Linked DNA regions of Homo sapiens: region 2 is linked to region 1. Evidence: fine-mapped expression QTL. A gene starts in region 1. The other region holds a variant in brackets. All regions are shown on one strand. Distances are between the middles of the regions.

What was found. PIP is the estimated chance that this variant, and not a neighbour inherited with it, causes the effect.
Region 2: its variant is the best candidate, but not a certain one, in a credible set for the expression of CHL1 in testis (GTEx, PIP 0.67).

Annotation. Positions count from the first base shown.
Region 1 is chr3:194,316-198,705 of GRCh38, forward strand. It overlaps CHL1 (cell adhesion molecule L1 like), which reads left to right and starts at 2,448. Exons shown (of 28, transcript NM_006614.4): 1 at 2,448-2,748. It overlaps CHL1-AS2 (CHL1 antisense RNA 2), which reads right to left and starts at 3,026. Exons shown (of 4, transcript NR_144487.1): 1 at 2,652-3,026; 2 at 2,141-2,193; 3 at 1,681-1,725; 4 at 1,443-1,599.
Region 2 is chr3:62,044-66,433 of GRCh38, forward strand. All of the region lies in intron 1 of LOC105376921 (a long non-coding RNA gene), which reads left to right. Among named protein-coding and RNA genes, the nearest start is that of LINC01986, 52 kb to the left of the region's middle. The variant T/C (reference allele first, on the strand shown) is at 1,639.

The DNA.
Region 1 (4,390 bases):
TCTCTCTCACCTTCTGCTTCTATTCATGATAGGGCCCTTTTCTCCCCTATTTTTGTGGCTTGATATTAGTATTTTCATTCGAAACGGCCGTCCTCAATTATCAGAGAGAAAATTCACACCTTTCAAAGCTACGGCAATCACATTTCCATGTGACTCATAAGTATATCTTCTTTCTCTAGCACCTAGGTGCAACTGTGGGATGCCTGATAGATTAGGATTGTATGTTGAATGGGAAATGGGTCTGAACCAAGTGTCAGACAGTAGAATGGGAGCCAGGGGAGGGTTCCAAAGCAGCAGCAGAAGGTATCTCTAGCAAGCATCCGCTCTGGCTGGGGACTGTCTTCTGGTTCCAGCCTTACTGGAAGCTCAGGCTGTAGAGTTGTGAATTCCTGGGGCCAGGCAAGCCTAGATGTGTTGCCTGCTTTTGATAATGTATCAAAAATATGAACTCATCCTTGGAAGCGACAGCTATGAGGTGTTTCTTGGATGTAGAAATTTAGGTCATCTGTCTTCCTTTTGCATTGCCTTAAAAAGTACGATTTCCTTTCTTGGTTTATCATTTGCTGGCCTTCTTTCTTTCCATCCTTCCTCCCTTCCTTCCTTCCTTCCTCCCTTTTTTCCTTCCCTAGACTTTCCCTATCTCCCTCTTTTCTTTCGTAAAATTTGGTTGCCTGGGATAACGTGTATTGCATACAAGCTGACTTCCTTACTGTCCCTAGTAAGCTATGTGTGGCTATTATTTCTTCATTTATATGCAATGCCAGAAGCTTAGAAGAATGTTATCTCCCTTTCAGTTAAAAACTCATAGTTAAGAACTGGCCATCTTCTTGTTTTGGGTATTGTGGCTTGGTACTGTCTAATATATTTGGAGGGTATTTGATTTTTTAAAAAGCTACTGGCCATGCCTATTGAGTTTCCTACTGAGCCCAGCACCCAGACCAGTGATTGATTAAATAGTAGCTGCTCAATAAATATTTGTTTTGTAAATAATGATTCTATTGTCAAGAAACAAATCACCAAGAAAGAAGGAGCTATATATTTAAGAGTACTCTGTTCATCTGGCCAAAATGGAGTTCCGAGTCCCTTGCTCAGCTGATGTTTGTTCACCCAGAAGATGGTAAACTCCTGAGACCAACTTCGCTTTGTTGTTCTCTTGTGGTTCCTTGACCTTGGAAATGTTTTTCTACAGGCAGAGTATTTCCCCCTGTTGGAATTTTATTTAATATTCTATCTTTGTTTCTACTTTAGAAAACATGCCACGTGAATAATGATGCCTCAGGCAAAAGAAATCACTCCAGCAGTACAATTTAAACTTAGGACAAATCCTGCCCTCACTTGCATTCACAATTTGCCAAGGCAGTTGGTAAGAACTGTGCCCACACACAAATTGACAGAATCGAGGCCCCAAGGTTAGCGATGATTAAAATTTAAAAGTCCATTCATTCATTTTCAAAATATTTTATTCGATTGCTTCTGAGGCAGAATCATGAGTTGCCTTCGCTTTTGCTGCTCCCGGTGGTGGCATCCAACTCTGAGGATAGCTCATCCAACTCTGAGGGTAGCTCTGAGGGGAGCTAAATATCCTCATTGTTCAATGAGCTAGATGAAAACAAAACGAGGCTGTAAGGTCAATCTCACAGCCTTAGTGGAGTAAAAATTAGAAGTCAATAATTCTCTTACCAACAAAGAGGACTTGCATTCAACAGGATTTTCAAAAGTGGTATCCTGTAAAAATTTTGGAAAATACCACCATAATGGAAAAAAAATAAAGTGGCATATAAATCAAATGTAGTGCTAAAAATTATAATTTTTCCATATGAATTTTGGAATCCTAAAATATTTTTATGTGTTTGTGGATTCATAAGGCATCAGAACTGGCTTTTTGCACTGAATATGAGTACAGAAGGCTTTCCTCTCCAATAGTGAATTAATAAAGGATAAGTAGGAAAAACGTTACGAAACGATGTGGTAACATTATAGACTCTGTATTAGGGCAAAAATTGTGAGATAGTAGAAGATCTGTAAATTTAAGCATGCACAATTTGACAGCGGATGGTCGTAGCATATTTTGTAAATTCAATAGCAAGCCCCACCACGCCCTTAAATGAAGGAAAGCAAGAAGACAATTTTTAATACGTACATGGCACCACACCCCTCTAAGACGCAGCAATGGGAGAAAAGCAGATTGGCGACCTGTGTGTGCAACATGAACCGAGTGAAACCATCGGGGAGGGGGTGGGGGGCGTTTCTTTTAAATGTCGCTTTTGCAGATAAACGAGCAGGGATCCTACCTCTTTTGACCGGAGATGTTGAAAAGCACGACCAAAGTTTTTGGCTTGGTCTCTTGCTTTCCACAACGAGATAAAGTCTGAAGCCTGTAACTCTCCCTGTCCCGCGGGAGCGTGCAAAGGGAGGGAAGATAAGCGGCGTGGGTGAGGGGTGGCGGCGCAGAACCCAGGAAGGGAGCAGAGGCGAGAGCCAGCCTCCGGCAGGAGGGCGTAGACCCCGGTGCCAGCCAGAACGGCTCCAGCCTTCCCGCGGCCAGAGAGCCAGCGGCGGGAGGGGACGGGCGGGACCTCCGCGGACAGCCCCGGGTGCGGACCAGCGGGCAGCGGCCGGCGAGACCCTCCCTGGATCCGCCCAGAGCTTACCGGACCCTGCGCGCCCCCGTCCCGGCTCCCGGCCGGCTCGGGGGAGAAGGCGCCCGAGGGGAGGCGCCGGACAGATCGCGTTTCGGAGGCGGCGCAGGTGTGTCAGGGGTGGGGGTCCGCTGGCATCTCTCGTGCCGGCGCTGGGGGGGTCTCCCGTGGAGGAAGGGCTGAAGGTGCTCCGGGAGGGGTCCACTCGTTATGGAAAGGAAGCGGGGCGCGGTCAGGGTCCCTCGTCCGCAGTGGGGGTGGTCCGGGCCCCTCAGCCTGCACCCGGGAGGAGACGCCCCCTTTTCACGCCCCGCCCCCGGTGGCCGAGGCCGGATTCGGACAGCTCGGGGTCAGTCGACGGAGCACACCGGGCGCCCGAATCCGCCGGGTCCCACTCACGCCCGCCGGCCGCCGGTAGGTTGGCCCTCCCGCTTCCAGCCTCCGCCACCCCATCCCTCGCTGCTCTCTGAGGAGGATTCCAGACCCCCCCGTAGATCTCCGCCCTCTCTCGGGTGGGGCTCCGAGGTCTAGCTGGTCTGGGGGTCAGTCCCGGCCTCTGTCTCCCACCGCGCCCCTCGCTCCCCTGGACACCGCCTGGTGTGTGGGGCTCAGACCCCCCCAGTCCACTGCCCCTGTGTGGCTCCTCCTCTCAGGAGAGGATTCTAGATCCCAGCCCGGGGGGGGTTCCGAAAATGCCGCCAGCCTGGAGCGGGGAATCCATGGACCGTGGGGTTGTGGGGTTGGGGAGCACGAAAACCCAGAGAGGGGCTAGAGCTCCACCTCCCCAGACCGCCGAGGGGCGAGAGGGCGCGCCGGGGGCCGTGGTTGCCATGGCTCCTGGTAGCGGAGCCCGGGGGGCTGGAGATGCCGGTCGCGGATGGTCCCTTCTTCCTCTTTGTGCCTCTCTCTTTCTCTCGCTTTTTTTTTTTTTTTGGAGTGTGAGTGTGCGTGGGGAGGCAGCACGGAGAAAGTGATTAATTTGGGGAGCAGGGATTGGAGCCGGGAGGCTGGGGAAAGCCAGCCCCTCCGTTCCCACTCTCCGGGCTCGCTGCGAGCCACAGTGTCTCAGCCAGGGGCAGGGCCGGGGAACTCCTGCGAAAAACCACGGGCCGGAGGAGCAGCAGCCGCGCGGGCCCAGGTACCCCCGCCCCAGACGGCCAGCAGGGTGGAGCGCAGGGTGGGCGTTTGGGCTGCTGGGCGGGAAGGCGGGCGGGGAAGGGGTGGGAGGCCGGCGGCGGAGGGCAGGTGTGCGTCGGCAGGGCTGGGTGGCCCGGCAGAGAGGGCGCCCCAGGTTCAGCCCCTCCTCGAAGGGCGCCGGCGTCCAGTCCCGCTCGTGGGAGCCGCGGAGCAGCCCCAGGGCCGGCGAGCGGCTGCCCTGCCAGGCGCGTGCGCGAGGGCGCGCTCCCGCGGGAACGCGCCGTGCGCGGGGAGATTTGCGCGTGCGCGTGGCGATGGTAACTGGTGGGCCCCCCGGGCTCGCTCTAGGCGGAGGCTCCCGGGACGCCCACGTGGCTTCGAATTCCAGCTCCACCATCACTGTGATGCGTCACTCTGGACTAGGCATTTAACTACGTGCCTCAGTTTCCCTTTCTCAATAATACGGAGATTATCGATACCCTCTATACTGGGTTGTTGCAAGACTGGAATGAGATGATACAAGTAATTTAACACCATAGATTTTTAAATTTAACACCATATGCATATTTGATGCATAATAAGCACTCAAAAGTTATTGTCGTTGATGCCATTAC
Region 2 (4,390 bases), 130 kb before region 1:
ACCCACAAGGTTTTGGGGAATATTGTATCAGCAGAAACACTGCCAGACTGGCCTGAAAGGGACATACATGGGACATAATGAAGGCAGACTGTCAGACTTCTGGGATTTTATAGGCAGAAAATGGGCTGATAGAACTAGTTGGCTACAAACATGTATTATCATTCAAAAAAAAGAGAAGAATGACTCTGAGTGCAGAGCCTTGGGTACAGAGGGCAAAGCTCCAGACCCAGAGATCATAGCTTCAAGCAACAGAAAATAATTGTCAGGTCTTGAAACCTAAGGAAATTTTCCTTGCTGGATTTTGAACTGGCTTGGCATCAGTGACCACTTTGTATCTTCCATTGTCTCCCTTAAAATGGCAGTGTTTATAACTATTAACTACACTTGCCCATCATTGTATTTTGGAGGCAGATAACTTTTTTTTTCGAGGTTCTCATGTCCACAGATGGAGAGGGATTTTGGTGTCCTATCTATTGGCCCTGTCAAGTTAATATATAAAACTAACAATCACACATGTATCCTTCAAAGCGAAAGGAAAAGGGAGTCAGAGATAGACACAAAACGGAGGACATACACAGAGAAGGCAATATGAAGAGAGCAGCAAAGATTGGAATGATGCAACTACAAGCCAAGGAATGCTGAGGGTTGATGGTGCCTACCAGAAGTTAAAAGATAGGCATGCAGCAGATTCTCCCTTACAGTTTTGGAGGAAGTGTGACCTTGCCAACACTTTGAGTTTGGACTTCTGGCCTTCATAATTATGAGAAAATACATTTCTGTTGTTTTACGCCTCCAGGTTTGTAGTAATTTGTTACAGCAACCTAGAAAACAAATACAGTTCTCTTAGCTCTTGGTAATCCCCAGAAAGTAGAATAGGCATTAGCCCAGAGTAAGCATAAAATGTTACTGATAATGTTATGTCCTGATTTATAGTTCATTTCTGAGGATATTGTGTGTGCTCAGTAAATGTTTTTTGACTTGAATAAAAGTCCCAAAATGTGCAAATAGGTGTCACGGACATCTCTAAAATAGCCTCAAAGAACATTTCTAAAATGTCCCCCTCCTCCTCCCTGTCTTCTAAACACTCATTTCAAGTAAACACTGCTTCGAAAGCAAGTTTAAAATGCAGCTTGATTGATGGCTCATCAGCAGCAAACAATCACATTCAAAGCCGCATATTTACATGGTCAATACACAAATTAAACATGAGATTTCCCTGAAGTCACTCTATAAACTTGTTAGATCAAAAGTCACTTATGCACTTCATTTCGGGGAAGGAGGTCACCCAGCCTGCAGAACACAGATTATTCATGGCATGAAGAAATTCTTTGTTTCGCAGGGTTAGGCTTGGATCAGAATTGCGGTAAACCTCTTGGCTAGTAGCAGAATATTGACTAAAGCTCTGTCTTCCACCAGTGCAGAGGAGAAAGCCCTGTCAAAACCCACAAGAAATCTTTTTCTTGTTTCTAATCATCTCAAACACTGCTGAATACTTTATCTCTCACAGGAGCAGACTTCTTTGTTCTCACAGTTACGAAATGAAGGGGAGGGTGAGGGCAATCTGTTCTCAGCCAGAAGCAAATGAGGTTTTGCAAGATAACCAGGGGCATAGAGACTTCTCCCATACCTGGTAAAACA[T/C]TGTGTCTAGGGATGCCCCACCCCAGGCATGTTGCCTTCCTCTGGACCTGTGCCAAGATCCCGAACAAACCTAAATGGGAAACTCAAAACCAAGCAGAGAAAATAACTGAAATCCAGGAGGAGTTGGTTTATGAAGCCCAATTAGATAGCCTGAATATTGCATTCAAAAGGTGACTAAGTCAAGACTTGAAAAACATCAGCATAAGTCAGAAGGATGTGAGTGGTAAAACTGGCAAGGAGTAGACAAAATGCAATGGGAATAGTCAATGCATAGAGAACATATTTTTTAAAAAGAGATTAAATGGCAGTGTAAAGAAAATCTTACTCTTGGTAAAACCTCAGTATCTCTCTTTTTTAGGATTGTATTTTTGGGTTGCTAGCTTCAGGTTAAAATATATAGAAAATACTGTAGTATTATGAAGGCCATACTACCAAATTTTTAGGAAATATTCTATGCTAGGTATTACATTAAATATTTTGTTAATCTCTAACATCCCTACAAGATGAAGTCAGATAAAGATAGAAATTAAGACTGAAAGATTAAAGGACTTGTTTCACATCATACAGTTCATAATTGCTGGAGCAAAGATAAGAATTCAGGTCTACATCTTTCCATTAGATCATGCTACTCTTTAGTCAAACTCTCTAAACTACTCTTCACCAACAATTAACGTTTTCTCTGTAATATCATCAGTAGGCGAATGAGACTTGTTACCAGCACTCTATTCAAATGTATGTGGGGTGAAATAATAAAGCACTTGAATTAAGGGAGATTTTATTCAATGTTTTAGGAGAGATTCTCTCAGCATCTAGTATCCCTAGTTACCCCCTTCAGCTTCCTGAGGAGGATTATTTCTCCTTGTCTCTACAGGCCTAAAGAAAGGTAAATCAGATGTATTAAAAGTGCCTTTTCAACTTATGAGAATCTGCAGTATGCTTAGTTCTTTGCTGGGACACTGTTACAAAAGGAATAAATGAATTACTGAAGTCTCTGCTCTCAGGAATTTATCATGAAGAGGGACAGAGTGGAACTTCACAAAATTATTAGGAAGTGCAACACAAAAGTCAGTTTAGGTCAGAGCCTTCCCTCATTCTGATTCCACATTCTATTGCTTTGAACATGTTCATTTGTCCGATCTGGAGACTAACTGTTTCTTATACTCTGATGGTCCCCTTGGGTTTACACCGGTTTCCACTTTTTCTGCTCTAGTAGTAACGTCTCCTTGTTAGGCATTAGGGCTTTTGCAGAATCCTTTACAATATGACAGAATAACATGAGTCAATTATTTATAGTTAAGGTGCATTGAAAACATATATTTCAAAATGAACATGGTGCAGAACTTGCTGGATATAGGGAATGAAGAGAACTAAGAGGTTTGCAAAGAAGTTTTGGGTGAGGAATTGAGAAAGAAATGAGAGCTGTGAGAGGATGATAGGTTAGAAGAAAAAGGGAAAAGAAGATTTTACAAAGTGTTAATTTAAATTTTAAATGAACAGTTTTCCTTTTCTGAGAAATGCAAGTTAATGGATGTGCTGCAGTTTGCACTACTTCTGGCTCCTGGGCTGAGTGAATGTCACTAGGATTCTCCTCAGAAACTCTACTACATGGGTGCCAGCTTACATTCAGGTTACATGTATGTAGCACTGTCTATGTGGAAGCACCATTCTAGGCACTAAGTATACAATAGTGATCAAGGTTGGTGATATGGTTTAGCTGCTTCCCCACCCAAATCTCACATTGAATTGTAGCTCCCATAATGCCCACATGTCATGAGAGGGACCTGGTGGTAGCAATTGAATCATGGGGCAGGTTTTTCCCATGCTGTTCTCATGATACTGTATAAGTCTTATGAGATCTGATGGTTTTGTAAAGGGCAGTTGCCCTGCACACACTGTCTTGCCTGCCACCACGTAAGATGTACCTCTGCTCTTCCTTCACCTTCCACCATGATGGTGAGGCCTCCCCAGCCATGTGGAACTCTGAGTCCATTAAACCTCTTTTCTTTATAAATTACCAAGTTTTGGGTATTTATTCATAGTAGTATAAAAATAGACTAACACAGCTGGCATAGTCTCCAGCCCCAAAAGAATTCAAATTCCAGTGAAAAGGCAATGACAGAAATTATCACCATAGTAGGACTATAATTTGTGAGGACGTATGATGCTTTCTAAATATGGCACCGTTTATTCCTCAGACCAATCTTGTGAGATTAGTGTTATCAATTCTGTCTGATAGTGAAAGAATTCAACTCAGAGAGTCCAGGTTCTGTTCAGTGGAGATGCATATAATGAACAGCTGAGCTGGGATTCAAAACATAGATCTGTCTGAGTCCAAAAGCCTTCATCTTGGCAGTGGAATATAGTCAATGGCTAAGAGACAAGAAACAATGGAGAGCTTAGAACTAACCCTTTGGAGATGCTAACATTCCTGGGTTTGGAGAGGAAATGCTGGTCAGGGGCTAAATAAGGCACTCAGGATGTCAGAAAGATGTGGGACAAAATAATGCAAGGTGGTATAATATTTCTGAAAGCTGAAGAATTGACATTATCTAATAATAGGGAAAAACTCAGGATGTAGTCAAGAATCCTTTATTTTTGGAAATCCTAATATTGAAAGCATAGATTTCAGGTGGATGTTGAAGTCTCCAATGGCCACCAAAACTGCAGGGCTCTAAAAAGGTGTTAGGTTTTGAGAAAAACTTAAATGTGACGCAGACCTTTTATTCAGCAAAAAAAAAAAAAAGTTGTTGCA